Linked DNA regions of Homo sapiens: region 2 is linked to region 1. The links come from fine-mapping of genetic effects on gene expression. Tissue or cell type: whole blood. Region 1 holds a variant in brackets; the other region holds the start of a gene. All regions are shown on one strand. Distances are between the middles of the regions.

What was found. PIP is the estimated chance that this variant, and not a neighbour inherited with it, causes the effect.
Region 2: it holds the start of PFKP, and the variant in region 1 is fine-mapped to the expression of PFKP in whole blood (TOPMed, PIP above 0.99).

The regions. Positions count from the first base shown.
Region 1 is chr10:3,124,094-3,137,070 of GRCh38, reverse strand. PFKP (phosphofructokinase, platelet) reads right to left here. Exons shown (of 22, transcript NM_002627.5): 17 at 7,088-7,252; 18 at 4,630-4,691; 19 at 3,757-3,868; 20 at 2,489-2,588; 21 at 1,233-1,335; 22 at 269-621. The coding sequence ends at 492. SNORD142 (small nucleolar RNA, C/D box 142) reads right to left here and starts at 2,967; the gene lies at 2,773-2,967. RefSeq lists enhancers at 87-586, 587-1,088, 7,343-7,856. The variant A/G (reference allele first, on the strand shown) is at 4,239.
Region 2 is chr10:3,060,017-3,075,409 of GRCh38, reverse strand. It overlaps PFKP (phosphofructokinase, platelet), which reads right to left and starts at 7,862. Exons shown (of 22, transcript NM_002627.5): 1 at 7,703-7,862. The coding sequence starts at 7,814. It overlaps LOC124902536 (wiskott-Aldrich syndrome protein family member 1-like), which reads right to left and starts at 8,840. Exons shown (of 1, transcript XM_047426132.1): 1 at 8,062-8,840. The coding sequence starts at 8,707. The coding sequence ends at 8,270. PFKP-DT (PFKP divergent transcript) reads left to right here and starts at 8,477. Exons shown (of 4, transcript NR_160681.1): 1 at 8,477-8,657. RefSeq lists enhancers at 1,460-1,961, 6,754-6,823, 11,624-12,574 and silencers at 6,144-6,343, 6,430-6,610, 7,024-7,203, 7,624-8,023, 8,034-8,133.

The DNA.
Region 1 (12,977 bases):
AGGAGCCTGGGGTCGAGGCCCAGGGTCCCGGCCTGCTGCTGTGGATGGAAACTGACACATGGCAGATATGGAATGGTGAGTAAACGTGGCCTTCCCCTTGGCCTGTGTGAACTCCTGGCTTTGTTCTCCTTGTATGACGTGTGCATAGTTCAGTGATCCCTATAAAAATATTTTGCTAATCTTTGCCCACAAAACTGAGAAAACCTTTAGTAGCCACCCATAGATTGAGGTACTAATCTCCTACTTAAAAAACTAAAACAGAGGACTGTTGGAGTCATAGGCAAATGTTTAATTAATTCTGCTCATATGCACATCTGAAAGCATGAGACACACTCCACAGACAGCACGCACTGGAGCAGGTGGGGCAGATGGGCACTCGCCGATTAGGTATTAATGTCAATAATACGTGCATAAAGTGCTGATAAAATAACTTAAGTGTTACAAAAACAGACAGTCCACGGTGGCTGCAGGCACATGCAGGCGGGACTGGGTCAGACACTCCAGGGCTGCACATGTTCCAGCTGGCCTGAGTCCGACACGTCATAGCTGGCCTTGTACTTGGCCAGGATTTTCATGAGGGGCCGTAGCTTGAGCCACCACTGTTCTTTGGGAATCCTGTGCCTGTGGAGGTAAGAGGAGACAGCAGTGAGGCCTGCAGTCACTGGCGGGAGATGCCTCCGCCTGGCCAGCACAGCGAGCGGTCTTGCCAGAAACACAGGGTTTGTAGGGTCGGCTGAATCAACTAGATGATAAAGCCAATTTCAGGATCAAATGAAACCATTGTTTAAAATTATTCCCGAAGACCCAGTGGTGGAGTCTCGCTCTGTCGCCAGGCTTGAGTACAGTGGTGCAATCTCAGCTCACTGCAACCTCTGCCTCCCGGGTTCAAGCGATTTCTCCTGCCTCAGCCTCCTGAGTAGCTGGGACTACAGGTGTGCATCACCATGCCTGGCTCATTTTTGTATTTTTAGTAGAGATGGGGTTTCACCATATGAGCCAGGTTGGTCTCGATCTCTTGACCTTGTGATCCACCTGTCTCGGCCTCCCACAGTGCTGGGATTATAGGCATGAGCCACCGCGCCCAGCCAAGACCTAGTATTTTTTTAACTGAGCTTCAGAAAAGCCAGTTCCTCAAACCCCTGAATGAGTTGCCGACAGCAACAGCAATGGCCATTCCCCTGTCCCGTACTCACATTGGGGTCTTATTGCCTCAGGGAACCCAGCCAACTTACTCAAAATCCGTTTGCTTCTTCAGCTCTGCCACAGGTTGAAAAATAACGTTTCTTTTGCTTATTCCCAGCACACAAATGGAATCATCGGTGGTAAATTTTTTTCCTATAAAAGATTTTAAAAAAGATTAATAACACCCTGTCAACATGGGCAGGTGGGGGAGCAGAATCACGGGGCGAGATGAGAACTGAGATTCCTCAGAACCATGCTGAACCCGGCCTGGAAGCCCAGTGAGACTGAGAACAGCCGCGCAGTGGGGCCAGCACCTGGCCTCGTGCAGCTCTGCTCCTGTGGGACTGCCCCGAGGGCTTCCTGGAAAGCAGCTTTTGTTTTTTCCTCCCAGTGGAGAGAATTTTTCACTAAATAGTGGAATAGGGAAATTAGCTTAAATTACAGGACACTAATTTATGCTCACACATACACACACTGAGAGGCAAAAAGCATCCATAGCTAAATTAGCAAAAGAAAATCGCTGTAGAAAGAATCAAAGCCAAAGTCAGTTCTTCAAAAAGACAAACCCATTGAAACTATTCACATCACTGGTTTTTATAGACTGTCATTTTTCTAAGTTGGACACTGGCAGTGATAGTGGTTTGCCGGAATAAAAGCACACATCTGCTATGACTGATTAAGAAAGCTGAGGGGGGTGGGGGTGAGAAAGATGCTGGCACAAAGAGCCACTCAGGAATGAGTGGGGAACAGCCATGTTGGAGCCATTAACAAGAGTATTATAAAAAAGTCATGTTTCTTGAAACTTCAGTTTAAAGATTTCTTAGAATATGTAACTTACAGAACTGATTTAAGGAAGAACATGCACAGTTCTACGAACATGCAGTTCTACAAACATGAACAATTCATTCAGCAGTCAGATCTTCCTCAAAACTGGAAGTTTTGATGGATAGTCACAAGGAGGTTGTCCTAGCAAACATTCAAAAAATAGAAGGCCCCACTTAAACTGTGAGGGGAAATTGCTGGCCAACGTTCAGGATCTCTAGAGCAAAAAGCCTGCACAAAAGAACTGCAGACTGCATCTAGCAGTGATAAAAGAGAACATGTCATACCCAAGCTGATCTTATCCCAGGAATCCAAGGTTGGTTAAATAGCAACACTCAGAGATCAGGAGTAAAACATCACGTGCAGCTCAGTACTGAACTGAAGAAGGAACCAGCACCCTACTTCTCCCCGATAGGACAGCATTTTCACCAAGGCAGGACGGCCTGCATCACGAGGCTGTGGCCTCCCTCCCCAGACCCCTTACCTCTGCCCCGGGCCTCCTTGAGTTTTGCAGTGATCCACTCCATAGCTCTGGCAGAGATTTTGGTTCCAAAGTTTCTATCAAATGGAGAGGGTGCCCCACCCTGTTGGTGGTTAGAGTTATATGAAATACCAGTTATACAGTAACACTTTGCTGTTAAATAGAAATGACAATTTCTATTTTGCAGAATTCATGTTTTTATTTCTAGGTCCTTATAGTTGGAACAGAACAAAACCTGTGATTCCCGTAGCCTGAACTTGGCCTGTTAAGAAAAAGTATCAAGTGTTCCCCCCGCTCAGTAAGATGAGGATTTTAATAAACCGAACAAGTCAACTAACAATCTTCATTATTTTAAAATCTTAAATCAGGATTTCATGAACTCATCTGAGCTGGGGATGGGTCACAGCTTTAATCTGATAACCGTTGTGGATTCTTTAAGAAGATCACACATATGCCTACTATTTCATCATCATTGCAGGGGATTCATGGGCTCTGGCTTAAAAGTATAAGAATAGGAGGTGGTGAGGAAGGAGTGTGTGCAAGTTAGGAGGCCTGGACCCTGTGTCCCAGGCTCAGCTCATAACACGTGTGTGCCTGTGTGCAGCTCATTCCAGGTCATTCTGACTTGGGGTGTCAAGTATACTACATGTCTGATAATCCATTTTAAATCTTAGGGAAGCTCCAGTTTTTAACTTGATGAAGTGTTTAATTTGAATAAGCATTTCCAAGTAATGGGGGTATCACTGTTTTCATGAAAGCTGACAGTTCCCTTAAAATCCCCATTACTCAAACCTCACCAACAAAAGAATCCTAAAGCTGGTGATGTTTGGCATCACTTAAAAGTTCAGATGTTTTGGCTGGGCACAGTGGCTCAGGCCTGTATTCCCACCACTTTGGGAGGCTGAGGTGGGTGAATCATCTGAGGTCAGGAGTTTGAGACCAGCCTGGCCAACGTGGTGAAACCCCATCTCTACTAAAAATACAAAAATTAGCTGGGTGTGGTGGTGGGTGCCTATACTGCCATCTCCTCGGGAGGCTGATGCAGGAGAATCACTTGAACCTGGAAGGTGGAGGTTGCAGTGAGCCAAGCTTGTACCACTGCACTCCAGCCTGGGCAACAGAGCAAGACTCTGTCTCAAAAAGTTCAGATGTTTTTTATCATCTTGGAATTTACTTATACATTTTTCCCCACAATGGCTAAAATAAGACACTAATCTTTTAAAAGTCACATGACAGGGGCTTTGTGGCCCCTCATGCAGTCTCGGGCCTACCTGCTGCATGTGACCCAGCACGTTCTTCCTGCAGTCAAACACGCCTTTGCCCTCTTCTGAATACAGCTGGTAAATGAAGTCGGTGGTGTAGTTTTCACTGCAGCTCTCATTTCTGAAACGAGCGAGAAGGAGTCACTTTGTTTAGCGTGCAGTGGGCACGTGGCTCCCTGCTTGGGGAGATGGCCCTGGGAGGCTGGACTCCCGCATCCCCCAACCCTATGGTGATTCTACATCAACACCAGTCCCTCCAGTTCACGGTTTTGCTTTCTGCAGTTTGTTACCCATGGTCCAGTGGTCAACTGAGGCCCACAAATATTAAATGGAAAATTCCAGAAATAAATATGTAAGTTTTAAATTGCACACCATTCTGAGTAGCGTGATGAAATCTCGTGCTCTCTTGCTGTCCCACCCAGAACGTCAATCATCCCTGTGCCCTGCATCTCCATGCTGTCTGTGCCTCCTGCCCGAGTCACTCAGTAGCC[A/G]CCTTGGTTATCAGATGGAAGCAACCTCGTGTATACAGGGGGCGGGTACTATCCCCAGGTTCAGACACCCACTGCAGTCTTGGGACACAGTCCCTGAGGCTAAGAGGGATGACTGTATTTCCTTCTTTCTTCATAAACATCAGGTGCTAATTAGGGAAATGATTGCAAGATATCAAAGAATAAGAGACTATAAAGCAAAAATATTAGTTGTCTAAATGCAGGCAAGCCTTTAGAGCAATGCACCACAGCTGTCTTCTGCACCTGCTCAGTGTGTGTAGTGCACTCTAGCGGCAAAGAAATGACCACTCATCCAGCCCAAGTCACAGACTAGAATCTAAGAACCAGGGTGTGGCGGTGAGGGTAAGATCAGCCCCTGGTCTCTCTCTCTCACCTGAGCACAAGGCCTCTCTGGATGGTGGTCTTCATTTTCTCCGTCAGGTGCTCCACGTTGGACTGGAAGAGAGTATTTTGTTAATCAGACAATAAACTTCTACTAAGTACCTACTGTGTGCCAGGCACTGCAGGCTGGGAAGTGCCAACCAAGTGTGGCAGTGAGCGTGGCCAAGGAGGCTGCAGCTCTCGCGGCTTGGGTCTTGGGGAGCCTCCTCCCAGATAGGGAGGACACGTCTGCAGCGATGAACGCTGAGGACAGGGCACGGTGAGCAGCCCTCACGGCGGCCACTAGCAACACCTTCCAGAGTCAACAGGGTCCCTCTGAAAATGGTAATTCCGTGCTTTGCCTAGTGATCATTCATGGCTCTATTGCTCCTTGTTTATTTGCATGACGATGTTCTCGGTGCTCTCAGAGGAAAGAGTGACCTGTGGCCTTTCTATGGAATCTCATGTGACGGCCTGATGAGCAGTGTCTGACCAAAGAATTTTGTAGACTCACATTCATACACAGATTTCTTAAGGAAAAGATGGTCTTAGAGTAAGAACATCCCCATTTCAGATCATGTTAGGAGGATTACAAGAGGGAGGTAATTCTCTAATGATTCATCCTAAGAAAATGGAGGTTTTTACATCTAATCAAATCTGTCACTGGGCGCAATGGCAGAATTTCACAAAGTAGGAGGCCAGGCATGGTGGCTCATGCCTGTAGTCCCAGCACTTTGGGAGGCCAAGGCGGATAGATTGCCTGAGGTCAGGAGTTTGAGAGCAGCCTGGCCAACATGGTGAAACCCCCGTCTCTACTAAAAATACAAAAAATTAGCCAGGCGTGGTGGCAGGTGCCTGTAGTCCCACCTACTTGGGAGGCTGAGGCAGGAGAATTGCTTAAACCCAGGAGGCGGAAGTTGCAGTGAGCCGAGATTGTGCCACTACACTCCAGCCTGGGTGACAGAGCGAGACTCCATCTCAAAAATTAAAGCAAAAAATAAAAATCTGTCATAATTTCTCTTAAGCCCTTGCCATGCTGAGCGCTGGTGAGGCAGGATCTTTGGATAGATTTCTGAAATACGGTCATGAGTCATGTAACAGGGGGATATGTTCCTTGAGAAATGCATTGCTAGGTGACTTAAGCCTTGCGCAAACATCCTACAGTGAACTCACACAAACCCAGGAGGCAGAGCCTGCTGCACACCTGTTGTTCCTGGCTACAAACCTGAATGTCTGGGACTGTTGAATACTGCAGGCAATTGTGTATCTAAACATGTCTAGATGTAGAAAAGCACAGTAAGAGATACATATTTTTTGATAAAAAACATCTTTTTATAAAATATATATTATAAAAATATATGTAAAAAGATATGTTTTTATAAAAGATAAAAAACTGCACCTGTTTGGGGCAGCTCCATTATAATCTTATGGGACCCACTGTTGACAGAAACATCATGATGCAGTGAATGACTCCACAAATATTTGACATGGTAAAGAAATTCGTGATTCACATGTCACATAATTAGTGCCAAGGCCCTTTTTACTTGATCTATTTGGCTCAGAAACAAGTAACATCCTAACTTTTTAAAAGACAATGGTGCTGGGCGCGGTGGCTCATGCCTGTAATCCCAGCACTTTGGGAGGCCGAGGTGGGCAGATCACGAGGTCAGAAGTTTGAGACCAGCCTGACCAACATGGTGAAACCTCATCTCTACTAAAAATACAAAATTAGCTGGGCGTGGTGGCACGTGCCTGTAATCCCAGCTACTTGGGAGGCTAAGGCAGGTGAATCGCTTGAACCTGGGAGTTGGAGGTTGCAGTAAGCCGAGACCACGCCACTGCACTCCAGCCTGGGTGACAGCAAGACTCCCTCTCTAAATAAAGACAATTGTTCAAGTTGCATTTTATCTGCCAAGGCCTGTCATCTTGCATGAAGTTTAGCAACTTTGAATGTTGCAGGGTCCAGGCCTGGATTCTGCTGTGTCGTCCAAGCAGGGGCAGACCGCGGGGTCAGCGACACCCTTCCCTAAAAGAGCCACAGATGCCGAGAAACCACGGTCATGTCTGTGTCCGTTTAGAGGCAGACGCAGCATCAGGGGCCTCAGGATTTAAAAGAAGCTGCAGCAACCTTCAGAGCCTGTCGCAGACGTGGGTGGTGACTGTCAGCGGAGGTTCTCAAATCATTGGTGACATAAGTGAGACAACATTAACTACACAACAGACTATGTCAAACAAACAAGCTTGTGTTTCACACATGAGACTAGAAGGTGTCCTCAACCAGGCACACCCACCGTCACCTGACACGCAGTAGGGGCACCTGGGCGATGCGAAGTGTATCAAGCGTGGCATGTTCTGTAGCATCTCCATCTCCATGCCCCTTGGAAAGCAAACCACCCTAGACACGATGATTCACTCCGCAGCACCCAGTGGATCCCAAGGGGACGGGCCCTGAGGCCAGCCCCGTCACATACCTGCAGATCCCTGATGTCGAAGGGCTCTTCGAAAATGTATGCGGCATCAGCTCCGGCCGCGAGCCCCCCCATGTTGGCCAGGTAGCCACAGTAGCCGCCCATGGTCTCGATGATGAACACGCGCCGCTTGGTTCCGCTGGCGGACTGCTTGATGCGGTCGCAGGTCTGGTCACAGAGAAGCGATCAGTCACTCCAGCCCAGGCCCGGGGCGCGCCCACCATCCCAGAGCTCCCCCAAGAGTGAGTGCAGCAAGGCCCCCCCACCGCGCCCAAACATGCGGTCCCAGCATCCCGCAGAGGTGAAGGGTGTGCAGCAGCCAGGATGTGCCCTCGGAGTGGGTGTGAACGTGGTCCCCCGCAACCCCACCATGGCAGCCACCTGGAGGTGACCTCGATGTCCCGTTTTGGGGGCCTGGCCATCTGCCGCTCCCTTCTCCCAGGCCCCATAGAAGGGGACGGAAAAGACGACCCCACAAGCCAGCTCACTCCACGCTGCTCTGTGACTGTCCCTGCTGAAGCCGCTTTCACCGGACACAGACACCGTTAGGTGTTAGCTGAGATGTTAGGGGACTGTCCCCTGCCAGCTTAGTCCGTGAGAACCGCTGTGCTATTCTATTTTCTTCTGAAAAGCTCCCTGTGATTTTAGAGGTGCGGCCATCTTCCATCCATTGGCGAATGTTACATTTATGGAAACTCTACTCAAAGGCAGATGGTGGTTCTTAGACCCAGGCACCTGGGGAAGTCTTCCAGATGCACAGGCATCGGATCCCAGAGTGAAATGTCTGCCATCCGCCCTCCATGAGGACCCAAGCTCGGCGGGGAGAAAAATGGCAAAGAAATGCATCGGCCGCCTTCCCACCCATACATCAGTCCGGCTGCAACGCCCTCTTCCTGGGCCTCAGCTCCCACCCCGGGACCCTCCAATCCGTTCACACAGAAAGGACCCCATCTATAAAAAACATAAATCTGATCCAGTTCTTGGTTTATTCAAAACCCTTTGCTCACTTCAAGTACACATCAAGCCTTTGTCGGGAATCCCCGGCCCCGCCTGCTCCCGGCACCAGGTCCTGTTCCAGCCACCCCAGGTCCTCCTGGGGCCTTTGGATATGCTGGCCGCTGTGTGCATCACATTCCGGCACAGTGGTGGGCGGGAGAGCAGCCCCCAAAGGAATCCCAGTCCTATCCCTAATCCCTGGAACCTGGGAATGCTCCCTCATGCGGTGATAAAGGTGAATCCTAGGAGTACCCAGGTGGGCCTTAAATGCCATCACCTGCATCAGCAGATGAGGGGCGCAGAGGCTGAAGGCCCTGGAGCGGGATGCTGCACACCCACATGGAAGGAGGAGGCGCCAGGGAACAAGGCGTACAAGGCGTGCAAGGCCCGCAACTCTGGGCACCTGAACGGGCCACGAGGGACGCTCCTGGAGCAAACATTCTGGCCTCAGCCCATGGCTCCTGCGCTCCAGAGCTGTGGGAGAGAGTATTATTTTCCAGCCCCAGGTGTGTGGTCAGTGTCACAGCGGCCACGGGACACACAGAGGCACCTTCCTCAGCTCTGATCCAGAGGAAAATGTCATTTCCTCAGGAAAACACCACCTGGTTTCTAGGACCACAAAGTTCCCTCTGTCAGGGGCTCTCGGAGCCACCCCATGTCCTCTCTTCACAGAAATTATCCCGGTGTCTCTCCCTGCAGTTACCTTGTGGTTATTTGACTTGGGAGGATCTTCCTCACTAGGCTGCAAATTCCATGAGGACAGGAACTGTGGGCTGGGCTTACACCAGTGCACCATCAGCAGCACCCGGCCGAGCCCCCACAGCAGGCGCTCAAGAAATGCTTGTCTCTGAATGACATAAGCATGGTATTCCCCAGCCAGCCGTCCGTCCGTCCTGGTCAACGGCTGATCCTGCAGGATTCCCTAATGGGCCTCCATGGGACTCAGCCAAGAGTAAGAGCATGAAGTGGGGGTGTGGACTTGAGACTAGGAGCCACGTGAGAGTCTGTGCACCCAAGTTTAACACCCATTGGGAAATGTTCACTTGAGCACTTCGGATGAAATCTAAAAGTGCACTTTGATTAATAAATGCAGGCTTGATTAAATGATTCCAAACTGTATTTCCAGTTTCTTTGGCAGATTCTTTTCTTCCCAAAATAATTGGTTGATGTATTCAAAACTGAACACGGACTCTAGTTAGCGGGCCACTTTGCATTGTGTAGAAGCCGAGATGGGGAGAGAAACAGGCAATGGGAAGAATTCCCATCTTTGTGCTTAGGAGGACAGAGGACAGATCCCCGTCAAGGGTCCAAAGAGCCCACAACTGCCTTCTTGAAGGGCCAGTGCAGAATTCTGAGGGTTGCACTGTTCCACCTGTACCGGGTCTCTCTAAATGTGATCTAAGACTTAAGACGCTGTAAGGCTTTAAGACTTCTCCTTTGTCTTAGAGAATCCCAGGCACGGGTGGGGCCTCAGGACCCCCAGAGGCACAAAACCTCATGGGTTACTTTTCCAACTGAATCTCCCCCGCAGCCCACCCTGAGGTGGGGAATTACTGTCACTCATTCAAAGAATGACATCAACCGCTTAATGGCAAAAGAATTCTGCGGGCAAAGCAGCTCTCCCAAGAGGCTGATTTGTGCCCAGGCGTGTCTGAGTTCTGGTCCCGCCAGGCTGCCCCAGGGGGCTGTGGAACAGCGCAGCCCTGACACCTGAGCCACGCCCCCGACTGTGTGCTCGTCTCAGTGTAAACGCAGCGACAGCTGGTACGGAAGAGGCCGCCTTTGCTGGAGCTTAGATACAGCTTTCCTGAACTCTCTCCTCATTACCTAGATGGCATCTGAAGCCTGAATTAGCTTCTAAAAATAGCAAGTCACTCCGGCCGTGCCTCAGGCAATTAGTCAAAGCAGCACTGACAAGAAGGCGGCAGATCCCAAGCGCGGCCCTGCCTGCCTGCAGTGTGGCACGGAGGTGCCTCCCTGGCCTCCGAGTGGGTGGAAGGATGGCAGAGGGCTGTGTCCCAGGGCTGGCACGTGGACAGCAGCTGTGAGTGGCACTTGTCAGGCAAAGCCTGTGACCTCAGCCGTTCCCCCTGCACGATGGGATGTGCCCCCAGCAGACGCCACCCCCTGCAAGGACGCAGAGGCGATCCTGCTGCTGAGAAATTCCCCGAGGAGTCCCATGGGAGCGAGAGCCCCAGGCTACAGTTCAAACATCACCACACTTTGCTCCATGGGTGTTAAGAAATATAAATTGGTGGTGAAAGAAAAGGTGGCGTTTGCTACAGCATTAACGTAGAAAAAAGCCACTGACTTCTCTGTGAGAACCACCTTGCTCTGTGAATCTGCAGGGAGGCCAGTTTTCCCATGACTGGTATCCCTCACGGCAGCCGAGCCTCTGCTGAAGTCGGTGGCCAGACGGGACAGGGGGTGGGGGTCCTGTCCCTGCTACAGCATGGAACCCGCAGCAAAGCACAGCTGCTGGCCAGGGTAGGGCTGCGTCGCGTGTGGGGCGCGAGGGTGGAAGTGTGCATGGACATCTACAAGGTGCTAAAGGAGAGTGAAGCCAGCGATGGCCGGACCCTAATGGCATTCACCCAACAGGGGTCAAGTGCGGGGCCCAAGGAAGTCCTGGGAATGAGCCAGGGCCAGCCTCTGCAAGACCACCACAGCACTGGGGAACACAGGGAGAAGCCTAGGAGAGAGATGGCCAGGACACGCCCCTCAGCTCGAGTGGGAGGCTGAGGCTCGGACTCACAGGAAGCTGCAGCCGACCTCATGGCTCCTCTGCTCCCTTCCCTGCACTGTAACTCAGCTCTGAAGGAAGTACCCGGAATAGAACTGCTGTCTTCCGAGGTTCTGTGCTAAGCTGAACTAAGGAGTCTCCAGCAGGACTGGGAGTTTTCACTGCAAACTCCGGAGCTGGCTTGGACGTCAAGATGTAAGGTAAAGGCCAGTGGCTGCTGTCCCCGCACGCGATGCAGGCCTACCCCGGCCAGCAGTTCTGCTTTGCTGTGGGTCCCTCGCACCAGGTGGCCAAGTCACGGACGTGACCCCACATGTCACGGTGGCCACCGTCCTGTCTGCAGCTGAGTGAGGACCGTCTCTGCAGCAAAGGCCTGTGGAACTACCATAGGTCTTCATGTCCAGCTTATGACCATAGAGGTAGGTCAGAGTATCAGGGACCGGAGGGGCCACCATGTGGGTGTCAGCACCACACCCACGACTGGCAGAATCCACCCCTCCCAAGGCACATGTTGGTGAAACCGCCTGCCCAGGAGGGCGTGATTTCGGCTCTCTAAAGAGCCTCTTGTCTCACCAGGAAGGCTGTTTTCCAGGCAGCGGCCCCCAGTGGGTACGGCTCTGTCCTGGAGCTCGTACTTACCGGGCATTTACACCCCTTCCTGCAGGCTCCCACAGCTGGCCCTGCAGCCTCACTACTCAGCGTGGGCAGGAGAGGCAGCCTCCAGAGCAATGGTACCTGCGGCTCCCCTAGTCTAGGTGGGATAGAAACACGATCCCAAGGACTGGATATATCATCTCACTTTTAATCAATAAAGACAGGCTCTCCCTAAGGCAGAGAAGCTAAAAAAATTTTACCCTGTTCTGGCCAGTGTGACATAAAGCCAAGCTAACAAAGGGGAGAAAAGAAGAAGAATAAATCCGGCTCATCCTTAGCACAGAAGAAACAAGTTGCTAAAATAAATGACGGAAAAGCAATGAGAGGAAACGGGGTTCTCTTACCTCAACAACAGCATTCAGGCCAGTGTCGGAGCCCAGGCTTATTTCTGTGCCTGGGACATTGTTGCTAATCGTGGCCGGCACCACACACAGGGGGATGCAAAGCTCCTGGTGGCGGCCTCGTGCCTCGGCCATGTCGCACGCACTCTTGTAAGCCTGAAGCAGCAGGGCCAAGCGGTTAGCGGGGGTGCCGGGTGCTCACCTGCCAGCCCCAGGGCCTGTGCTGAGGTCCAGGAAGGGACGGGAGGGGACTGAGTCACCAGGGGAAGCCGGTTCATGCGGGTCAAGGGGCCGAGGGAGGCTCTGGAGGCCGTGCGAGAGCAGCACAGGCCCCAGCAACACAGGGGGCCGCCTGGGCACAGCCCAGGTCCTCATGAAAGGGGGTGCCTGCAGGCAGCACAGCGGGGTGGTGTGAGGCAGGCAACGGAGCAGGTTGCAGGCAACGGCGAGTTAGTCACGAGTGGGACAGCTCAGCTCTCGGCGTGTCATGGTAGGTAAGGGAGGCCAGGGCAGTCAGGACACTTAAAGGCAAAGCCAATCCTGTAGCTTTCTGCAGGCAGGCAAGGATCAGTGGGATGGGGCACACGGCTGTAAGGACCACACCAAATGCCCGCCTTCATCGTGCAGAGGCGGCGCCCAGGTGCAGGCAGGGAAGGGGGCATGCAGCTGGATTACCGGTGGGCCACACTCAGCCCCACGCCACATCTCTGCTCTCCGGGCGGAAGCTGCCGTTTCTGCCCTCGGCAAGCCGCACACAAAGCCGCACAGGCGAGCAAGAACCTGAGTTGCTGCTCTGGGGTTCCACTGGGAAATGCGCTCCGGTATCAGAAAGGGGAGCGGTTCTTGAGCCCGTGTACACCGGGGTTTTTCAGACTCCACCTCAGGGTGTTAACCAAAGTCACAGCAGGACAGGTCCACACGCCCACTGTTCCCACCTCCAAGTGGCCCCACACAGCAAGGTGTTTTTGACATCCACGTGGTGGCAAAACCAACTATTTATGGTCTTGGACGTGTCCGTCTTACTGTGAATATCCCCACATCTGCTGCAGAAATGCTACTGGTGGGACACAGGGCGGCGCCCACACCTCCCTGGGAGAGTCGGACAGTGAGCGATCTGGGCTCTGCAGCCCTGGTGCAACGCAAAGCATCCCAAGGCCTG
Region 2 (15,393 bases), 63 kb after region 1:
TGCCCTTGAGTATACTGTGTACCTCTTGACTTTCGACCAGCACAAAGCTCCTTATTAAACGCTGACAAAAATTCCTTCCATTCTGTTGGGAGCAGGCCCCCCCAAATCTGGCCATAAACTGACCCTAAAACTGGCCATAAACAAAATCTCTGCAGCACTGTGACACGTTCATAACGGCCCTAACGCCCAGGCTGGAAGGTTGTGGGTTTATGGGAATGAGGGCAAGGAGCACCTGGCCCACCCAGGGTGGAAAACTGCTTAAAGGCATTCTTAAGCCACAAGCAGTAGCATGAGATATGTGCCTTAAGGACATGCTCCTGCTGCAGTTAACTAGCCCAACCTATTCCTTTAATTTGGCCCATCCCTTCATTTCCCATAAGGGATACTTTTAGTTAATTTGATATCTGTAGAAACAATGCTGATGACTGGCTTGCTGTTAATAAACACGTGGGTAAATCTCTGTTCTGGGCTCTCGGCTCTGAAGGCTGTGAGACCACGGATTTCCCACTTCACACCTCTATTTGTGTGTGTGTGTCTTTAATTCCTCTAGCGCCGCTGGGTTACGGTCTCCCCGACTGAGCTGGTCTCGGCACATTCCAGGTGCCATAATGGAATTAATTAATCTCCTATTGATAGTTTTTTGCTGGTTTTCCCACTTTTTGCTATTCTAAGCACTGCTATGAAGATTCTCCTTTAACCCCCACCTGCCTGTGTCTGTTGGAGCTCACATGCTCTACCTTCCAGCTGTAACAGCTGAGTGCCCATTCACCCCAAGCCCTGACACACTCAAGTCTCTGGGTCCCCTTGGCGGGATGTGTCTGTGGACACAGGGCTGCCCTGCCACGTGCCCCACCCCATAACCTTCCATCTGTGGCCTGCTCCTTGTGATACCCTAAACTTGTGGCCTCCCCTCCCCTCCTCTCCTCTCCACAAAGCCACCCTTATCGGAGACAGTCAGTCTGCTTCCCTCCACCTGCTTCCCAGTTCACCCAAGGCAAAGCCAAAGTCCTCCACTGGGCCACTCTCCTCTACGGACTCCTCCCTCACTGTCAGGTCAGGTCAAAGGGCCCCAACCAGAGGTTCCCCTGGGCCCTTTCATAAGACAGGAGCTTTTCCTCTCAGGTCAGGCTACAGGCACGTCGTACCCGCACCTCACCACAGGAGTGACAGCTCCAGGCAGAAAGGGCCTGGTTCTTTTGCCAAAATCCTGTCCTGACTCACCCAAGGCAGTCTGTTAACATGCACAATGATTACAGAAACACAGAAATAAGGCTGGGTGCAGTGGCTCCAGCCTGTAATACCAGCACTTTGGGAGGCCAAGGCAGGTGGATCACTTGAGGTCAGGAGTTCGAGACCAGCCTGACCAACACGGTGAAACCCATCTCTACTAACGATACAAAAAAGATCAGGTGAGCATGGTGGCGCATGCCTGTAATCCCAGCTACTTGGGAGGCTGGGACAGGAAAATCGCTTGAACTCAGGAGGCGGAGGTTGCAGTGAGCCGACATCAAGCCACTGCACTCCAGGCTGGGCAAGAGGGCAAGATCCCGTCTCAAAAACAAACAAACAAACAAACAAAAAAAACACACACACACACAGAAATAAAATCTTAATCGTAGTAAGACACAGCTGAAAAGATATGAAGGACTGACTCCCCGAGGCTACTGCATGCCACCCTTTCAATCATTTTCCATTCAGGAAACTTCGGATCAGATCATTTACATATGTACGTTTAGACAAGGGGTCCTATATTAATGAATCTTCTCTGTCAAAATCCTGGTCAAAGTCAGAAAACAATCCCATGGGACTCCTGGGAGCATCTCACATTGGGGAAACCTGGAGAAGTGGAGAAGCTGATCTGCCCGATTTGCAAACCGCTCCACTGGCCCCAGGGGGTCCAGCAGCACCGGTGCCCTCCCCGTGAGAGTCGGAGCCTCACTCAGACCCACACAGTCAGGATCTACACCTCCGCAGGCTCCCCTAGGCATCTCTGGGCACACGGAGGCTGGGAAAATAGCACACGGGCCCTGGGGTTGGGGGTCCCAGCACAGTCCAGCCTATTCTCTTTTCCTCCTGAACACTTTCACTGTGGATATGTGTTAGGGAAGAGGGGAGGGAAGACAGAGACAGGGAGAGGAGACAGAGACTGAGTGATGCCTCCATTCTGCAGAGGAAAACATCAAGACCCTATCTCAGCACTCAGCACTCAGCACCCTGCTGACCCAGACAGCAGGACCAGGGCTAGGACCTATAAATGTCTCTGCCTCTCAGTGCTCTGGTCTGCCATGTGTCTGGCTGCCTCTTACATCCTGACAAGCACAATGACTGTAATTCCAAACACAGGACTGGGAGTTGGGGGTGAAGACGGAGAGAACCGAGGAGTGGGGAGGGAAACTGTAGCCTTTGGGCAGCTACTCTCTAATAAACAAAAACACAACACCAGAAAGGGCTTGTGGAAAAGAAACACAAAACGGAACCCAATTACTGACATACGGCCCTCTGTTCTATATTCACCCGCACTTTCTTAGCCGAAATGCCATTGTGAACGTGCAATCTGGTATCCTGATGTTTGTCCTGACTACGTTACCGTATCTTCACCTTTCTAATTTTAATTGCTTCTGATGGCCCATCAGATTGGTAGAGCCCTAATTATTTAAAGAGCCTAATTCTCCCTGATAAAAGGTTGGAGTCCTGTATCAAAAGCTTTTAGCTTTCTGTAACCAAGGGGGAAAACATGCTTCTTTCGAAAGATGACAAAATGTCTAGCTTCGAAGGGTCATTCGAGTATGGCACACAAAACGGTCTGCATTCACAGAAAATGATGCCATTACACAAATCTCCCACTGTGCCACATGGTGACACCATCATTCCAACACACTGCCTCCCAGACCCAGTAATTTTTGCAAAATTAATTACTGCACTTTACACTGAAAAGATCCCATCAAATAATGTATGTACACAGGAAGGTAACGGGCCCAGAGCCGTGGGAGGCAAAATGGCGCTGTTCTCAGTTTCCCCTTCCACCCTACTGGGCTCCGAAGCCAGCATTGCTTCAGACACCAAAGGTGCCCATGTGGGGCTCAAGCCTGGTGTCCAATAAATATGTGTGTCATTGACCTAATGCACGTCCAGCCAATGGAAACCTCACACTTCTGACTTCGGTTTTAAGGTTCTAATCTTGAAGTCTTAACAGTTTACACATATTGACCTGAGGATATTGGATACTTTTAATTAGAGAGGGTTGAATTCCTCTAAAGGACTTCATGGACGAAGAAGACAGCTAGAACCCCTGGTTTCCTGCTCCTCAGTGGAGATTCCAGGCAGGAGGCAGGCAGCAAACACTTGCATTCCTGCGAAGCGCCAGGCATGGTGCTGGGCGCGGGAAAGACACCAGTGAAGACGCAGGTACGCGCAGCCCTGAACATCCCTGCTGCAGCCACAGGGCCCGGCCCCACCACGGAGCTCTGTGAACTCAGGGAAGGTGGTGCAACTCAGGCGCCCCTTGCTCATGTGTAAAATAGGGATAAGTCATTGCCCAGGATCACTGAGGCCCTGCCACATAACAAAGAGTCATTAATGCTAGTTATTCTCACTAGGATTGGAAAGGTTTGTACTTACTCAATTTATGTGGACTTTCTATAAATACTGTATTGATATTCACCTCACCACAGGCAAAAAGGACGCAGCTTTCACATGCAGCCTACCCTAAGGATGCACCTGGACTTCCCAGTACACTCAGCTCCACCAGGCACCAGGACCTTCAGAAGCCACAACCTGTGACTAAGACAATGAGTCACTCTTGGTGTGTGGCACAGTGTTCTGTGGCAGTGGGGACTTAGTCATGGTAAGTCCGCCATTCAGAGTTATGGAGCTTATTTCAGATTGAGTGAAAATCAATTTAAGTTTCCAGACATGTCTTGGGACAACAGAAGATACATAAAGAGGCAGAAGAAGAGAAAGAAAAAAAAAAAAAAAAAAAAAACAGCCTGAGACAGAAGATATCCAAGCAAGTAGAAAAAACAAACAAACAAACAAACAAAAACAGCCTGAGAAATACTTTCTTCATTCAAGGCCCGGGGAGTCGGGAATATAGAAAAGAGAAAGAGATTTTCAATTGTATCTTATAATTAAATAATATACACTCTACTGAGAGAAGAAAAAGCAGCCCATCACATAATATCGTTCTTGCCACCTGGACTCCTATCACTATAAAAAGGCATTTTCCGTTCCCCTAACAAAGCCACCCAAAGAATATCTGTGTAATTTTGGGCAAATCGGGTTTTGCTCACTTTTGAGCATTAACTAGATAAAGCAGCTTCACCAAGAAAGGTCCCTGAAAAACATGGTGGAGATGGTGGAGGCCTGACACAATGGCTCATGTCTGTAGTCCCAGCTCTTTGGGAGGCCAAGGCAGGAGGATCACTACAGGAGGCCAGGAGTTCAAGGCCAGTCTCGGCAGCATAGTGAGATCCTGTCTCTACAAAAATAATAATAATAATAATAATAATAATTAGCTGGTCATGATGGTGCATTCCTGTCTTCCCAGCTACTCAGAAGGTTGAGGCAGGAGGATCACTTGAGCCCAGGAGTTTGAGGCTGCAGTGAGCTATGATGGCACCACTACACTCTGGCCTGGGTGACACAGCCAGACATAAGTACTCTTCGTGGTCTACGGGAGAGTACAATATTTGGAATTAAGATCTGTTTTGCTCCTATCACAATCACGTATGCACCTCATGCCCTTACCTAACTTACTTTTCTTTCTGAGTCTTTCTCCCCACTTCCAAAATGAGGACACGCCTCTCTTGGGATCATGTATTTAGGCTTGGAGATAAGAAGTGTAAAGCTCTTAGAATACAAAATGTTTTCAACAAATGGTAGCTATGATCATCTTAATATACGGAATTTTACCATAATTTCACATCTGACAGAAAATTCCCCTGAAATTAATACGTGAATGTGAATATGTTCTCTCATCTCTAGCTACAAGCAATAGTCTTCTATGTCAGGGAAAATCAAGTACTAACATAGAATCAGAATAAAATGGTAAAAGAATGGGGACACTGAGATATTCTCGAGGAATAACCTACTTACTGTAAGGGTTTGTAAATCTGTGGCAGCTAAGACCAGGCCCTCTGAGTACATCTGGAGGTGAACTTCCTTAAAAGAAATGCGTCCAAATGCTCCAACAGGTTCAAGATCGTATCACCGAAGGGTAAAGCTCTTTACAGAGTCTACAAAAAAATTGTGACTTCAGCTCTGCCAGGGAAAGAGTGCCCAGGCGACCCGCCATGGCGGGCTTCCCCAGGGACAGCCCAGGTGTGACCCATGTGGGCTCGAGGCCACCATATTTGATGCCACCTGCAGAGCTGAGGGCAGCTGTCTCCTATTAACCCGAGGTTGCAGCAACCAAGCCGCGTTCCCCACATAATATTGGTTTCCAAAGTATCATTTTCCCCAGAAAAGAAGAGGCGTGGACTTACTAACCTTCAATATGTCTAACTCCTCCCAGGTGGCAAAACCAGGGTAACAGAGAACACCGCGATTCTGCCAATGTATCCTAATCTCACATGCCTGTACACAAACTCCCGCGCATTTTAGCAAGCTTTTGGACATGGAGCTCAAAGGAATGACCCATAAATATTTTCCAATACATGCAGTATCTTAATTTTTTTTCTTTCTTTTTTTTTGTAGACACAGAGTCTCACTATGTTGCCCAGGATGCTCTGGAACTCCTCGGCTCAAGCGAGCCTCCTGCCTCGGCCTCCCAAAGCACTGGGATGACAAGCATGAGCCACCGTACAAGGCCCACAGCACCTAAATTCCAAAATAACCTTGAAACCCTGACTTTCCACCCGCCCTGGTGGCTTCCAGAGATCAGTTCCTCTTCCTGTGCCAAAGGTTTCTTGTCTTTCGCGGCCCAGGTAAGGTCACTCAAGGTGCTCCCTCTGCTTCTGAAGGCCTTTGACTGAGAAGCCACTCTGGGTCCTATCCCGACCCCAAGGCGGCTCCATTCGTACCCGCACATCTCCGGGCCGGTTTAAGTCACGCGGGCCAGGCTATTTCCACTTCACTCTCCTGTTTCTTCAATCCCATCCTCTGCTGCATCACGTTTTCTTTCTCTGAGAACCCAGCCCTGCAGGAAGAACGTTGATGCTGGGGTCCTTTTACTGGAATGCTAACGCCAGAGCACTTCCCGGGGGCGCTGCAGGGCGGGCTGCGGGGCGGGGCCTGGCGCTGCCACCCGGGTCTCCCGCGGGGGGCGCTGGGCCTGGGGAGGCTGCGCTGCGGGCCTGGGGAGCGCGCGGCGCACGGGTGTCGGGGCCGGGGCTCGTGGAGACGACGGGCCGGGCATCACGTAGGCGCTCGTGGCGGGCGGGGCGGCGCCCACAGCGCCTCAACCTGCGGCACCCGCGCCCGCCCCGCGCGCTCAAGGGCGAAGGGAAGGTCACCCGCGCAGTGGGCAGGGGGTGCATCCCCGCTCCAACCCTGTGCAGTGCGCGGCCCCGAAACGGGAGGAAATCCGCCATCCGGGCCTTTCCACGCATCTGCGGCAGGAGGAACCGGGAAAACAAAAATCAAAACCCAGCTCGGGGCGCGCCGCGTCTCCAGCCTGCGCGATCGCTAAGGCTCCCAGGTTGCGTTCGCCTGGGAAGCGCCGATCTACCCGCCAGGGATTGCACGGATCGGGACACTCCATCATCCGGGCACCGGCGCCCCCACGTGCACCCGGGGCCTGGGGCGCGCCGAGTCTCCGCCACCTTCCGCTCTTCAATGTTAAATATCCTCCCGGCGCGCCCGCGTCCGTGGGCCCAGCCTCGGGCCCCTCCTAGAGAGCAGCTTCCACATTGCAGGGCAGGGAAGCCCGGAGCCCGCGCCGCGGCGCCGCTGACATCCCGGAGTCCCCGCTTCCTGATCCTTCCCGTCTGCGGAGGCTGGCGGGGAGGGCCTGGGACCCATTTTGGTTTTCGTTTTTGTCACGAGCCGGAAGGCGACAGCACATGCGAGCGCAGGAAACCCTTTTTAAAAATCTCCCAGCGGAAACGCGAGGGGCTGCCGGACCGCCCTGGAGACGCCAGGCGGGAACCCCGCGCACCCCCGCCGCGTCCCGCATTGCAGCAGCCAGGACCCCGCCCACGCCGCGCAGGGCACGAGGCGACAGGAGGCGCGCGGGGACCCAGCCGTTTCTTCCTCGACATTCTAGGGGGTGGCGTGCGGCGGAGTTGGGGGGCGGGGGGGCACTTAGGAAGTGATCGCGCTGTACCCACGCTTCGGAGGGGACGCCCGGCCCCGTCCTACAGCTCAGAGGCAGAACGACCCCCGAGGGCGCTTCAGGCGACTCCCTCTGCCAGGTTCCATTTAAAACAAAACCGAAGGTGGAAAACTCACTGATCTTCCGGATGGAGGTTCCTACCGCCATGTCCCTTCCTCCCCCGCCCCACCGGGCAAGGACCCCGGGGCTGCCTCGCCGGCTCATGCCGCCCCGCAGGTACCCCTGCCGCTTCCGGGCGCGGGCTTCTTCCCGGTTCTCCCCATCGCTTCCCCGCTCTTCTCCCCGGTTCTCCCCATCGCTTCGCCACCTTTCCCCGGGTCCCCCCCATCGCTTCCCCCCTCTTCTCTCCGGTCACCCCATCGCCTTCGCCCGGTTCTCCCCAGCTCCGTCCGTCCGTCCCTCCCTCGCCGCCGGGAGGGGGGCGCGCACCTTGAGCATCCCCGCCGCTGGTCAGCACGCCGATGGCCTTGCCGGCCCCGGAGAGGTGCTCCAGGAACTTCCGCAAGGAGCCCTTGGGGGCCCGGGAGTCGTCCGCGTCCATGGCGAGGAGGCCGAGGGGAGCCGCACGTCCGGGTGCGCAGCAGGCAATGGGGACCCTGCCCGCGCGCGCCTGACTCGGAACCGCCGCCCCGCCCGCGCCCCCGCCCGGCCCCAGCGCCAATGGGCGGTGACGGGCGGGGCCCGAGCGTATGGGAGGGGCTGCGGGGGAGGGGGCGCGGGCGCGGCTAGGGGCAGGGGCCGGGGCTGGGGCGGGTGTGGGCAGGAGCATCTACGCGGGGGTCGTCGTAGGTGGGGGCCGCGCTAGCGGTGCGGGAGGCGGCAGAGGCAGGGGTAGCGCCACAGGTGGGCGGGTCCCTGCTAGTGGGGCCGCATCGCAGGTGCGCGAGCCTCGCGGGTGGGCTGGAGGACTCTGGTTGGGGGCTCTAGAGATGACGGGAGCGCCACAGGTGGGGCAGGGGCAGCGTCCGGAGGAGGGGAGACCGCAGGGGGCCGGGGTCACATCGTTTGCGGGGCGCGCCAGGGCGGGGCGGGATAGAACGCCGGGAGCATCTCCCGGGGGGGCGAGGGAGACCGTGAGTGGGCGCGAGCGCCGGGGCGGGTGGAAACCCCGCAGTTGCGGGGAGCGCCGATGGCGGGGAGGGGTGGAATGGGGGCGCGGAGACCCCACCTGGACGCGGAGGCTCGCGGCAGGCCCGGCCGCTCGGGCCGTTGTGGGGGCCGAGCCCGGCCGCGCGCACAGCTTCTAGTGGCCCGCAAGATTCCTCCTGGGGCGGCGCTGGGAGCCTCGGGGCTCGGCTTCCTCGACCCCCGCCCCCAGGTTTCCTCTGCAGCCTGAGGTCGGGAAGGACGGACGGAGAGTGGATCCTCCAGGTGGTGGGAAAAGGTGAGCGTGGCGGGCTGGGCCATGACGAAGCTGCCATTTCCCGGGCCCATGGGGGCTGTGGTGCTCCTGGGCCCCCAGCCCCGCCCTTGGGGGGAAGAAGCCGTGGGGTGGAGGAAGGTATCGGGGCGCGACCCTCAGAGACGCCCTGGCGGCGCCCCGGCCTGGGCGCTGGAAAGTCAGAGTGGGGCAGGAGGAGGCGCAACAGGACTGGCCTGGCGGGGAGGCGGGGAGGCGGGAGGACCCTCCCTCCCCACGGACACGCGCGCTGCTGTACGCTCTGCCTGACCTCGGCCGGCTCCACTGGCCAGCTCCACGTACTGAAATACTCACATCCAATGCACTGTGCGGTTGCCCATCCACAGCTTAACAGCCTGGTGCCAGTTACCCTGCGATGGGAGAGGGGGCAGCCCCCATAGAAGCACGGGCTTATGGGACCCGGGTTCCTTCAGTGCTCACCCACGAAGAAGGGCTCCCAAACGGCCCCACTCGACGGCTCACCGGAGGATGGTCCTGCGCAGTGGGTGTTTGTTGAACAGATAAGAGACAACAAAACAGACTAAGAAGAGGCCTGTTCTATGAACCGGGGAAAGTGAAGGAATCACAAAGAGCGGCTCGCCTTAGGGCAATCCTGGGGAAAAGATGGAGAGGCATGGATTTTTCTTGGATGTGTGCCTCATCCTGGGGCTCATCCCTCTGAGCATCAAATATTCATTGCAAAAGAGGGGGAAAAACTCTGCTGCGGACAATGCTGGATGGTCTGATCTCTCCCTTGGCCAGAATTAACGGGGCAATTCCTAACCCCTGTTGGTCCTCAGAATCACCTGGCCTATGCACACTCCCGCTAAACCACTGAAGTCCAATTTCTGGGAGCTCAGCCAGGGAATGTGTATTTTTAAACAAGCCCCCTAGGTTACTCTGATAAGTGCAAAGTCAGAGAGCGCTGCTCTCATGCACTGAGCCTGAGCACTCTTCTATTAATAAAAAAGGAGAGGAGAATCCTGGGTTGGGTGCCCTTCGCCTTCTGGCGGCAGAAGAGCAGAGCCAGGCTCTAAGCACCTGCACCCACCGCTGGGCTCAGGAGCTGCGCTGGAGAATAGAAGGGCTAATTTAGTCATTCATGCCTTTTTAGAGCAAATTACATGTGGAGAGGGTGGGGCACACTGAATTTTATTTTAGCCAAATGCCCCTTATCTCCTTATGCAATTGATATTTTTATATTGAACATTAGAGGATTGGTCATTTGTCATCAAGTCGTCTGTAATACAGAAAACGATAAATACAACCTAACAGTTCAAACATGACGAGTTAAATAAATGATGGTTAAAAATATACGCTGCGATAATATTTAATTGCTGTTACCACTACGAAGATAAGTGTCGACTGACATGGAAATATGTTCAGGTCAAACAAATAAATGAAAAGGCAGGCCTGGACACAGTGTGAGCCTGTGCTTGCATGTGCGCACGTGTGCGTGTAAGTGTGTGTGTGAGTGTGCACACACGTAAATGTTTCTGAGCATTTTATTTCCTTTCTTTTGCTTAGTATAGGTAATGCCATTTTTCTCTCCAATGAACAGGTATTGTTTGGGGAATAGAAATAGTTAATTAAAAACAATAAAATTTAGAGTGTCCAGATCCCCAGGGTTATGGATTATGTTCAAAAGTTTGTCTGTATGTAAGGGCTGGGGTCAGGGTGGTCACTGACCGTCCTCACACATCTATTCTCATGAGTTTGACCCATTGCTCAGTCAGTCAAGGAATTAACATATATTTATATATACCTGTAGCTAAGATGGAAAAGCATAGCTATGGCTCTTTTTTTTTTTTTTTTTTTTTTTTTTTTTTGCAAGTCGTGTATTTTAATGGTGCTACAACTAGAGATTTTTTTTTTGTTGTTTAATCTTTGGCCTGAGCAATGAATCTTCTAATTCAAGAGGAAGATACTGCATGCCTTGTTGACTGTACGGCTTCCACCCAGTAGGACCTGACATGTGTGTTTGTTCTTTATTGTCCCTTGACAGATTACTGCAAACTGTGGCCCACACCAGCACACACTTATACCACAGGAATGATTACTCCTTGGACCAGGAGTTCAGACAGGCTTCACTGGGCCCTCTGCCCCAGGGGCCCTCTGTGGCTGCAACAGGTGTCTGCCCAGGGCTACAGTGTCTTCTGAAGGCTCAGGCTCATCATGGGAGGAGCTGCTTCCACGCTCACTCCTGTGTTGCTGGCAGGATTCTGTTGCTTGCAGGCTGTTGGACTGAAGGCCCCAGTCTGTCCCTGGCATCAGCTTCAGGCTGCCCTCTGCCCTGGGCAGGTGACTGGCTTTGCCAGAACTAGCACATGTCAAGAGCCAGGGGGAGAATTCCAGTGGACGGAACCTGCAGCCCTTCCCAATCCAATCTCAGGAAAGACCGCCGTCTCTTTTGCCTGATTCTGTTCATTAGAAGTGAGCAACGGAGTCCAGCCCTCTTCGAGGATCTGGCTGTGAACACTAGGGGCAGGGGCCACGGGGAGCCACTGGGAGGGGAGGTGCTGCCTGGGACCTGCCTAGGACAAGGTGAAGGAGAACATGCATAGGGACAGATGCCCTTCCCACTTCCCCTCTGCGGTGAGCGCAGGAGCTGCCCATGTGCCCTAAAGGAGTCCTGCCATCCCAGGAGGAAAGCAGCTCCTAGCCATGAGGGCACCATAACCCTGTGTTCCGGCATGTTGGGCTGCACATTCCACCACCAGGGCTACCTGAGCTGCAGCCTCTTCCCTTCCCCTGCTGTTTCTGCCTGTGCATGGAGTAGGCATCTCAAATCTGCAGGGGCCAAACTGAGCTTAGGCCTCTGCACCCCCACGCAACCCCCCACCCCTCGGTCTTCCTCACCTCAGCTCCTGGTGACCCCATCCTCCCAGGGTCTCAGGCTGAAGCCTTGCAGTGCTCCTCTACCCTGGCATCCAAGTCTCTCAGGAAGGTCCCTCCTGGCTCTTCATTGCATCTGGAGCCACTGGGGCCAAGCTACCACCTGTGACCTGGACTGACACAGGCTCCCTCCCCATCCCCTGCTCTGCCCCCACCTCCACCCCACCTCCATGCCTCGGGTGTCCTCAGCTTCAAAGTCAGGGTGCACCTATCAGGATGTAATTCAGGCATCTCCTCTGCTGACTTGGGAGTCACAGGCCCCACACATGGCCCACTGGTCCATCGGATCCTAGTGCTGCCCAGAGACCCATGCAGGCACCCGACAACCTCAGGCCCAGCCTGCTCTTTCCTCAGCCCGGGCCCTCCTCTCCCTACCCACTCTTCCCACCTTCCTCAGGTCTGTCCTGCAAGGTCTCCTGCATGGTGAGGCCTCCCCAGATCACCCTGTTAGAAATTCGGGCTCCATGCACACTCCTGTTCCCTCCCCGCTTCTCTTAAAACAGCCTCATGCGTGTCACACGTGGGGCATTTCACCTATCTGCTGGGCTTCTCGACAGGCCCCCCTGCTGAACTCTGAATGCTGTGGATTCAGAGATCTTTGACTATTCCCTGTTGCAGGCCCAGGGCAACAGCAGAGCCCAGGACAGAGTGAACCTGCCATGGGTGCTGCTGAATGAATGGAGTGAGTGAGTGAAGGAGTAAATGAGTGAATGGGTGAGTGAGTGAGTCAGTGAATGAGTGAGTGAGTGGATGAGTGAAGGAGTAAGTGAGTGAGTGGGTAAATGAGTGAGTGAAATGAGTGGGTGAATGAGTGAACGTGAGTGAGTGAATGTGTGAGTGAGTGAATGGGTGAATGAATAAGTGAATGAACGAGTGACTTAGTGAATAAGTGAGTGAATAAGTGAATGAATCAATGACTTAGTGAATGGGTGAGTGAATAAGTGAGTAAGTGAATAAGTAGTGAATAAATGAGTGAATGAGTGAGTGAGTGACCGAAGGAGTGAATGAGTGAGTGAGTGAATGAATGACTCAGTGAATGGGTGAGTGGGTGAATGAGTGAGTGAGCAAATGAGCCGGTGAGTGAGTGAATGGGTGAGTGAATGAGTGCGTGAACAAGTGAATGAGTGAGTGAACAAGTGAATGAGTGAATGAACGAATGAGTGAATGAGTCAATAAATGAGTGAGTGTATGAGTAAAGGGTGAGTGAATGAGTGAGAGAGTGAATGATTGAAGTGAATGAGTGAGTGAAGAGGTGAATGAGTGAGTGAGTGAATGAATGAATGAGGGAATGAGTGAGTGAGTGAATAAGTGAGTGAATGAGTGAATGGATGAGTGAGTGAAAGGGTGAGTCAGTGAATGGCTGAGTGTGTGAATGAGGGAGTGAGTGAATGAGGGAGTGAATTGAAGGGATGGGTTGCCCCTCCACACCTGTGGGTGTTTCTCATTAGGTGGAACGAGAGACTTGGAAAAGAAAGAGACACAGAGACAAAGTATAGAGAAAGAAAAAGGGGCCCAGGGGACTGGCGTTCAGCATACAGAGGATCCATGCCGGCACTGGCCTTTGAGTTCCCTTAGTATTTATTGATCATTATTGGGCATGGCAGGATAATAGGATAATGGTGGAGAGAAGGTCAGAAGGTAAACACGTGAACAAATGTCTCTGCATCATAAACAGGGTAAAGAAAAAAGTGCTGTGCTTTTGATGTGCATATACATAAACATCTCAATGCCTTAAGGAGCAGTATTGCTGCCAGCATGTCCCACCTCCAGCCTTAAGGCAGTTTTCCCCTATCTCAGTAGATGGAATATACAATCGGCTTTACACCGAGACATTCCATTGCCCACGGAGGAGCAGGAGACAGAAGCCTTCCTCTCATCTCAACTGCAAAGAGGCGTTCCTTCCTCTTTTACTAATCCTCCTCAGCACAGACCATTTACGGGTGTCGGGCTGGGGGACGGTCAGGTCTTTCCCTTCCCACGAGGCCATATTTCAGACTATAACATGGGGAGAAACCTTGGACAATGCCTGGCTTTCCTAGGCAGAGGTCCCTGTGGCTTTCCGCAGTGCTTTATGTCTCTGGGTACTTGAGATTAGGGAGTGGTTTGAGATTAGGGCGTGGTGATGACTCTTAACAAGCAAGCTGCCTTCAAGTATGTGTTTAACAAAGCACACCCTGCACAGCCCTTAATCCATTTAACCCTGAGTTGACACAGCATGTGTTTCAGGGAGCACAGGGTTGGGGGTAGGATTACAGATTAACAGCATCTCAAGGCAGAAGAATTTTTCTTAGTACAGAACAAAATGGAGTCTCTTATGTCTACATCTTTCTACACAGACACAGTAATAGTCTGGTCTCTCTTTCTTTTCCCCACAGTGAATGAGTGAGTGAATGAGTGATCGAGTGAGTGAGTCAATGGGTTAGTGAATGAATGAGTGATTGAGTGAGTCAATGGGTTAGTGAGTGAATGAGTGATTGAGTGAGTGAATGAGTGATTGAGTGAGTCAATGGGTTAGTGAGTGAATGAGTGATTGAGGGAGTGAGTCAATGGGTTAGTGAGTGAATGAGTGATTGAGGGAGTGAGTCAATGGGTTAGTGAGTGAATGAGTGATTGAGTAAGTCAATGGGTTAGTGAGTGAATGAGTGATTGAGTGAGTGAGTCAATGGGTTAGTGATGAATGAGTGATTGAGTGACTGAATGGGTTAGTGAATGAGTGAATGAGTGAGTGAATGAGTGATCGAGTGAGTGAGTCAATGGGTTAGTGAATGAATGAGTGATTGAGTGAGTCAATGGGTTAGTGAGTGAATGAGTGAGTGAGTCAATGGGTTAGTGAGTGAATGAGTGATTGAGGGAGTGAGTCAATGGGTTAATGAGTGAATGAGTGATTGAGTGAGTGAATGAGTGATTGAGTGAGTGAGTCAATGGGTTAGTGATGAATGAGTGAATGAGTGACTGAATGGGTTAGTGAATGAGTGAATGAGTGAGTGAATTGGTTAATGAGTGAATGACTGAGTGAAAGTGAATGAATGAGTGATTGAGTAAAAGGGGGTGAATGAGTAAATGAGTAATGAGTGAGTGAGTGAATGAGTGAGTGACCGAATGAGTGAGTGAATGAATGAGTGAGTGAATGAATGAGTGAGTGAATGAGTGAGCGGGTCGCTCAGAGGAGGTGAGGACCGGAGCTGCCCTCTGACTGCTTCAGGAGACAGGAGCTGAGGGAGGAGCCTGAAGGGTGGGTAGGAGGTGCCCACTCAGTACTTATACCCTGCCTGACACATCCCCAGAGAAACCCAATCTCACCAGAGTGGTCTCTTGAGAATTATCAGTAACAACCTTTTTTCCCAGTATTTCATATATTCAGGGTGATTTCTTACTTTCCTTTAAAATGCCAATTGCTTTTCGGACTTGGAATTCTCCACTGTTGCTCCACGCCACTGTATCTCCCATAGGGGCGTCCCCCGTCATTCCCAGGAATGGATAAAAGCCAGAAGGGCGGCATCAGGTGGGGCCCCTTCTCCTATCATCCTCCCCTTCCTGCTTGCGTTACCCTAAGTGACTTGTTTTGGAAGTCTACAAAACGCAGACACATCAAATTTGGATAAAAGCGTAAGCAATTTAAGAGGTTGCAGTGCTAGCGGGAAGGTCTTTGGCTGCCGGCACCCTCCTCCCCTCCAGACCCTGCTGGACCCAGGACTCTGACTCTGCCTTCGGCCTTGGGGGTTTCATTCCTTCTTTCCTTGCCAGCCACTGAGCTGCCTTGGGCTAATCTGCAACCACAGAGGGGCAACCATCCTCCTTTCCTCTTGCCTCTTCCTCCCTTCTTCTC